Linked DNA regions of Homo sapiens. The protein of the gene in region 1 purifies or fractionates together with the protein of each later gene. This does not show direct contact. Each region holds a gene or a part of one and is shown on either strand. Other genes may lie near its edges. The genes, in order: PRELID3A and AMN1.

The links.
Region 2: the proteins of PRELID3A (region 1) and AMN1 purify together in Homo sapiens (affinity purification with mass spectrometry; one large-scale study listed by BioGRID and IntAct). This does not show direct contact.

The regions. Positions count from the first base shown.
Region 1 is NC_000018.10:12,424,631-12,428,449, reverse strand, and holds part of PRELID3A (PRELI domain containing protein 3A), read right to left. Parts: intron 1,410-3,819; coding exon 1,339-1,409; intron 1,230-1,338; coding exon 1,127-1,229; intron 1-1,126. UniProt on the Homo sapiens protein: In vitro, the TRIAP1:PRELID3A complex mediates the transfer of phosphatidic acid (PA) between liposomes and probably functions as a PA transporter across the mitochondrion intermembrane space.
Region 2 is NC_000012.12:31,722,509-31,726,327, forward strand, and holds part of AMN1 (protein AMN1 homolog), read right to left. Parts: intron 2,132-3,819; exon of another isoform or gene 2,060-2,131; intron 1,410-2,059; exon of another isoform or gene 1,281-1,409; intron 1-1,280.

The DNA.
Region 1 (3,819 bases):
AGGGAAGAGAAAGAGGGAGGAAAGGGAAGAGTGAGGGGTAGGAGGGACAGACAAAGAGAAGACATGAGCCTGTGAGGCGGGCCCAGGTGAAAAGCAAAGGCCCTGCTCTGGCAAGTGGCATCTTTTAAATGTGAGGAACATCTTCCTACCAAACATTCAAGCTCTTTCCATCAACTCTGCTGGAGGGGAGGGCAACCTGGACTCCTAGAACAATCTCTTCCTCTGTTCCAGTGCCCTGGACACAAAGGGAGTACCATGGATGGCCTCCTGGGATCTATCCTTTCTCCTCTCACCTCCACAAAGCTTACTGCCAAATCCTGCCAGAGAGGAGCTGTGAAGACGGCAGCAGGCTCCATGGAAGCGTCACTGCTGGAGAGGTTCAGCCAAAGCCACTTAATGCCCATTAAATAGGAAACTACTATAAGTCCTGAATAGCCTACCTGACACTGTTAACACCTTGTATTTCTGATGTTGTGGGTTAGTTTGCTTTGGTAACTGAGCTTATGACATTTGGGCTCTTTGAAGTGGTAGTTGCCTTGGCTGGGTTTATGCTCCAGGTTTACCCCATACTTTCTCTACTGAGAAGAGTAACTTTGGCTCCCTTGGCTTTCATGCACACACTTCCCTCAGACCTGGGTCAGCCTTTCCCTACCCTAGTTTTGAAATACTGTGGCATTATGAGCTCAGCATAAATGGAGAGCCCCAGCACTCAGGATTTTATTTATTTATTTTTTATTTTTATTTTTATTTTTTTTTTTAAGACAGAGTCTCATTCTGTTACCCAGGCTGGAGTGCAGTGGTGGTTCAGCTCACTGCAACCTCCGCCTCATGGGTCCAAGCAATTCTCATGTCTCAGACTCTCGAGTAGCTGGGACTACAGAGGTGTGCCACTATGCCCAGCTAATTTTTGTATTTTTAGTAGATGGGGTTTCAGCATGTTGGCCAGGCTGGTCTTGAATTCCTGGCCTCAAGCGGTCCACCTGCGTTGGCCTCCCAAAGTGCTAGGATTACAGACATGAGCCACCATGCCCAGCCAGGAAGACTGATGAGACTAAAAATGTCATATTCTTAATCTGGCACTTAACAACTAGAGCACACACAGGACTCCTAGGATTGAGATACATACCTTCTTTGCATTGGATGATATCGTATTGGCCATTAAACTTTCCAAATAACTACCAAGGCTAATCCCCTTCACAGTGATGATGGCTTCTTGTGTGAGCACGGTCCTGCAAAAGAGCAAGAAGAAAAGGGGCTGACCAGCCCTGAGAGAGAGGAGGGTCTGCCCTGCCCTCACCCGTGGCATTCAATGTGTCAATCCCACAGGAGATGACTCACATTTCTGGGTTCTCTGGATGAGGTGTGTACACCAACCTCTCATTAACTGACACCAAATTTGTGAGTGTGATCTTAAAAAGAAAAAAAAGGTTTAGATTGTATTTCTCTTGCATTTCTTCTGAAGCCAACTGCCCATACTCTTCCATCCCAAAATTAGCACTTAGTGGGGCCAGAACAGAAGAAACTTTTAGGCATAGGAGATACGACCACATTAAATCCTAGGAAACCATGGTTTTGCTGTTCCTTCTGGCAACTGTCATCTATCTTCTTCCCATGTCCCACTCCACATGTGAGCAGGGCTCTGGCCTTCAAGGTACAGTCAAGCTGCCAAAACTATCAGCAGTTGTACCATAGAAAAGGACAAATAGGCCTGTGTGTCCATATAAGTGAGAGAAAGCTTTTCACCTACCCATGGCAGCCCACAGAGCACTGTCTCCTAGGACTGGATGGGACAGACTCTGAATCTACATGGAGACTGCAGGGTTCTTGTCTCCTCCAGTACCGCTTCCTATAAACAGACTAACTCCTTATGTACATATTTATACTTTTTTTTTTTTTGAGATGGAGTCTCACTGTGTAGCCCAGGCTGGAGTGCAGTGGCGCGATCTCGGCTCACTGAAAGCTCTGCCTCCTGGGTTCACACCATTCTCCTGCCTCAGCCTCCCGAGTAGCTGGGACTACAGGCACCTGCCACCATGCCCAGCTAATTTTTTGTATTTTTAGTAGAGACGGAGTTTCACCGTGTTAGCCAGGATGGTCTCGATCTCCTGACCTCGTGATCCGCCCGCCTTGGCCTCCCAAAGTGCTGGGATTACAGGCGTGAGCCACTCCACCCGGCCTATATTTTCTTTTTCTTTTTCTCTCTTATTTTTTTGAGACAGAGTCTCGCTCTGTTACCAGGCTGGACTGCAGGGGCATGATCTTGGCTCACTGCAACCTCTGCCTCCCAGGTTGAAGTGATTCCCCTGCCTCAGCCTCCGGAGTAGCTGGGATTACAGGCATGTGCCACCATGCCTGGCTAAGTTTTTTTTTGTATTTTAGTAGAGACAGGGTTTCAGCATGTTGGCCAGGATGGTCTCAATCTCCTGACCTCGTGATCTGTCTGCCTTACCCTCCCAAAGTGTTGGGATTACAGGCATGAGCCACCACACCTGGCCTCTTTTTTATTTTTTGAGACAGAGTCTTGTTCTGTTGCCCAGGCTGGAGTGCAGTGGTGTGATCAAGGCTCACTGCATCCTCAACTTCCAGGTCTCAAGTGATCCTCTCACTTCAGCCTCCTGAGTAGCTGGGACTACAGGTGCACACCACCACATCCGGCTAATTTTTAAATTTTTTGTAGAGATGGGATTTTGCAATGCTGCCCGGGCTGGTCTCAAACTCCTGAGCTCAAGCGATCCTCCCACCTTGGCCTCCCAAAGTGCTGGGATTACAGGTGTCAGCCACTGGGCCCGGCCTATATTTTCTACTTTTTTTTTTTTTTGAGATGGAGTCTCGCTCTGTCGCCCAGGCTGGAGTGCAGTGGCATGATCTCGGCTCACTGCAAGCTCCGCCTTCTGGGTTCACACCATTCTCCTGCCTCAGCCTCCCCAGTAGCTGGGACTACAGGCGCCCGCCACCATGCCTGGCTAATTTTTTTTTTTTTTTTTTGTATTTTTAGTAGAGACGGGGTTTCACCATGTTAGCCAGGATGGTCTTGATCTCCTGACCTCATGATCCACCCGCCTCGGCCTCCCAAAGTGCTGGGATTACAGGCATGAGCCACTGCGCCCAGCCTATATTTTCTGTCAAAACCAATTTAAACACTCGAGCTCTAGAGCCACACTAACAGAATTTTCTGTGCTAACAGTAATGTCCTATGCATGCTGTCTGATATGGTAGCCACACACACATGCAGCTAATGCACACCTGAAATGTGGCTCATGTGACTGAGGAATGGAATTTTTAATTTTATTTTATCCTAATTAGTTTAATTTTTTTTTTTCAGATGGAGTTTCACTCTTGAGTGCAATGGCGCGATCTCAGCTCACTGCAACCTCCACCTCCCAGATTCAAGCGATTCTCCTGCCTCAGCCTCCAGAGTAGCTGGGACTACAGGCACCCGCCACCATGCCCGGCTAATTTTTGTATTTTTAGTAGAGATGGGGTTTTGCCATGTTGGCCAAGCTGGTCTGGAAATCCTGACCTCAGAGAAGTCAGGTGACCTGCCTGCCTCAGCCTCCCAAAGTGCTGGGATTACAGGCGTGGGCCACCGCACTGGCCATAAATAGCTTAAAATTAAATAGCCACATGTTGCTGGTGGCTGCCACACTGGACAACAGAGCTCTAGAATTGCTTCATTGTTTAACTCAGTTCACCCTCTTCTCAAAATGCCAATTCTGATAAAAGACCATGTTTTAAAAAGTTTAAACAGTGAAAAGCAAATTAACCTTTCTGTAGTGATAAATACTCATTTTTTCAGTAATCTCTCACTGAATCCCTCCC
Region 2 (3,819 bases), on another chromosome or scaffold:
AGTAAGGTAGTTTGGTCACAAAAAAGGCACCCTGAAAGGGTTCATAGTCTCCTAGCCACCTCCTATATAATGATCAGGATGAAAAGGGGAGGGTTTGCTAGACTTAGTCTGATATTCTGGGATTCCACTCTGACAATTCCTGGGCATGATATGCAGCTTTCTTTCTCCAAACAATGACTCCAAGTCAGCCTGGTTGGTACACTCTCTGGGTGGCAGTCTGGCAAAAGGGAACTTAGGAAATTCAAACTTAATTCTGGTTCAGCCACCTGGATTCTCTTGTTGTACTGAAACCTGGATCAGGGGTCAGCAAACTATGACCTGTGGGACAAATGTAGCCAGCTGCTAGTTTTCAGAAATCAAGTTTTACGCCTGGCACGGTGGCTCACACCTGTAATCCCAGAACTTTGGGAGGCTGAGGCAAGCAGATCACCTGAAGTCAGGAGCTCAAGACCAGGCTGGCCAAGCTGGTGAGACCCTGTCTCTACTAAAAATACAAAAAATTAGCCAGGTGTGGTAGTGCATGCCTGTAATCCCAGCTACTTGGGAGGCTGAGGCAGGAGAATCACTTGAACCTGGGAGGCAGAGGTTGCAGTGAGCTGAGATCGGGCCACTGCACTCCAGCCTGGGCAACAGAGTGAGACCTCGTCTCAAAAAACAAGAAAGAAATCAAATTTTATTGGAACACTGCCTTTGACTGACACACACACAAACACACACGCACACACACACCACCCCTGGGGCTATTGTTAATGTGTTACAGTTGTTGACATTTTTTCAGGTTATGGTTTCATGGTTTCAGTCTGATCAACCAACTCCAGCCACACTGATCAAAGTGTGTTATGTTTTTGGTTTTCCAGACCACTGCGATCTCGGCTCACTGCAAGCTCCGCCTCCTGGGTTCACACCATTCTCCTGCCTCAGCCTCCTGAGTAGCTGAGACTACAGGCGCCCGCCACTATGCCCGGCTAAGTTTTTGTATTTTTAGTAGAGACAGGGTTTCACCATGTTAGCCAGGATGGTCTCGATCTCCTGACCTCGTGATCCACCCGCCTCGGCCTCCCAAAGCAGACCACTTTCACTCTGACAATGATAGGTCTTTTACTGCAAAGGTTGCTCAACAATGAGCCGATAGTCAAGGTATTCAACAGATGTTTCACACCCCTTATCATCCTCAGGCTGCTGCCATTTCTTTATGTGTTGTCTGTGGCTGCTTGTGTTCTACAATGGCAGAGCTGAGTAACTGTGTCAGAGGGTGTGTAGCCTACAAAGCTGAAAATATTACTCTCTGGCCCTTCACAGAAAGGTTACCAACTCCTGCCCTAGATAACAAAGATAACTACCACTTGGTTGAGGATACTGCTCACCAAGTACCCCTACAGTGACCCACACCAGTCAAGCAAGGAAACAAGGTAAGTCTGTGTAAACTTTATAAAAATGCTCTTGTTCCTCTTGCACATGACCTCTGTGAGTAGGGGATTAGAGAAAAGTAAAGCATTTGAAGTGACTGACAATCACTCCTGTTATATAGCAGATCCCCTTTATCCATGGGAAAAACATTCTAAGACTCCCTGTGGACACCTGAAATCATGGATAGTACTGAATCCTAAATCCTATATATACACCCTGCATTTACTATGCAGACATACCTGTGGTAAAGTTTAATATATAAATTAGGCACAGTAAGAGATGAACAACAACAACAATAAAATAGAACAGTTATAACAACATCTACAAGGATTGGGTGGAAAAATAAAAAATACATGTAACAATATGCCAGCATCAGTACTCTTGTGCTCTGGTGCAATTGTTAAGTAATATCAGGGTTATGTGAATGCAGTAGCCCTGCGACAATAGCTCTGATAACCAAGAAGGCTACTAAATGGACAGCATGGATATGCTGAACGAAGGCAGAATTCACATCCTGGGCAGACAGGGCAGGGTGGCATGAGATTTCATCATGCTACTCAAAATGGTGCATAATTTAAAATTTATGAATTGTTTCTTCCTAGAATTTTCCATTTAACATATATATATATTTTTTTACCATGGTTGACTGCAGGTACCTGAAACTGCCGAAACAAAACAGCACATAAGGAGAGACTACTGTATTTTGCTTTATGCAAGATTTCAGGTATATTTCAATATGTTACCTTTTTCCTACAACATGGCTCTCTGCCCCCCACCGCCACCTTTTTCTCTCAGTCTCTTTCATCTTAGCCCTTTAGTATGCTCTTCTCTGAGCTCAGCAGTGCAGAGGCTGTACCATGTGTTTCCCAAAGTAAATGGTTTCCTCTTTCTGCTCCAGTTCCCTCCAGCTGCAATAGCAGGGAGTTGGGACAGAAACAAATCAAATAGTTCTTAAAATTCTGGGAGGACTATTGAATGGCCACAAAGCCCATCCAGAAACCCTGCTGGTCAAACAAATTGATTAAATTTGTCAAATCATGTATTACATTTACTACAGCAAGGGAGATCATCTTGACAGGGTTTTGGTAGCATTTCAATAGAGGAATGTTAGGCAAGAGTATACATAAGTTTCTGGGATATAAACGCCACCAGTTTAAGTGGGTGCTTCTCCCCCCACAGTGGCGAATGGGTAAGGATTAGGCAAAGTTTGTGACTTAGTTTAAAACGGATGGACACAAAAAGCCAGGCTTGATGAGCAATCTGTCCAGATAAACATAATGTTTGTCCTAAAAATCAAAATGTTTGTCCTGATAGCTGTTTATTTAGATAAACTGATTTGCAAAAATTTCCTAGAGCAAAAAGTTAGGTTGACATAAGTGGTGTTGATTCTCAGGCCCCACAGTTGGCACAGGCAGTCTCATTTCTCAAGACAAAATGAAAAGAAGTCAGCTAAAACTTATAATCTTTAAAAGCTGTAAAACAATTGGGGAGACGGGTGGATATCCCAACCAATAATAGTTGCTCTACGTTTTATACTTAAAAGAAACAACCTATTACTATTTGGCCAAATCATCATATGGTGAATTGATCTAACAAATAAAAGAGTTTTGGCAACATGGACTGCTTCTAATGTAAGTGTTACATAAAATTTTGTCCTTGACTTTCTTTTTTTCTCTCTATAGCCCTCTTTTAAACTTAACCATGGCTTCCTATCATCTACAAAGTTATACCCCCAATCTTAGTTTCAATCCTTGATCTCTCTTCATTTTATTTGTGTATTTATGTATTTATTTATTTAGAGATGGAGTCTCACTCTGTTGCCCAGGCTGGAGTGCAGTAGCACCATCTTGGCTCACTCCAAGCTCCGCCTCCTGGGTTCAAGCAATTCTCCTGTCTCAGCCTCCCAAGTAGCTGGGAATACACATGTGCACCACCATGCCCAGTTAATTTTTTTTGTATTTTTGGTAGAGACAGGGTTTCACCATGTTGGCTAGGCTGGTCTCGAACTCCTGACCTCAAGTGATTCACCTGCCTCGGCCTCCCAAAGTGTTGGGATTACAGGCATGAGCCACTGCACCCAGCCTAATCCTTGATCTTTCTTTCAGATTCAAAATTATATTCTAACTGCCTGCTTGATATTTCTACTGGATATTCTGATTCATTTTCCCCGTAAGACACTTCTTCCTCCATAATAGTCTAATCACCATTCTACCTGTCAACGAAGCTAAAACTAAAAGAGTAATTTCTTTTTTTTTTTTTTGGGGGGACGGAGTTTCGCTCTTGTTGCCCAAACTGGAGTGCAATGGTGCAAGCTCGGCTCACCGCAACCTCTGCCTCCCAGGTTCAAGCGATTCTCCCACCTCAGCCTCCCAAGGAGCTGGGATTACAGGCATGCACCACCACGGCCGGCTA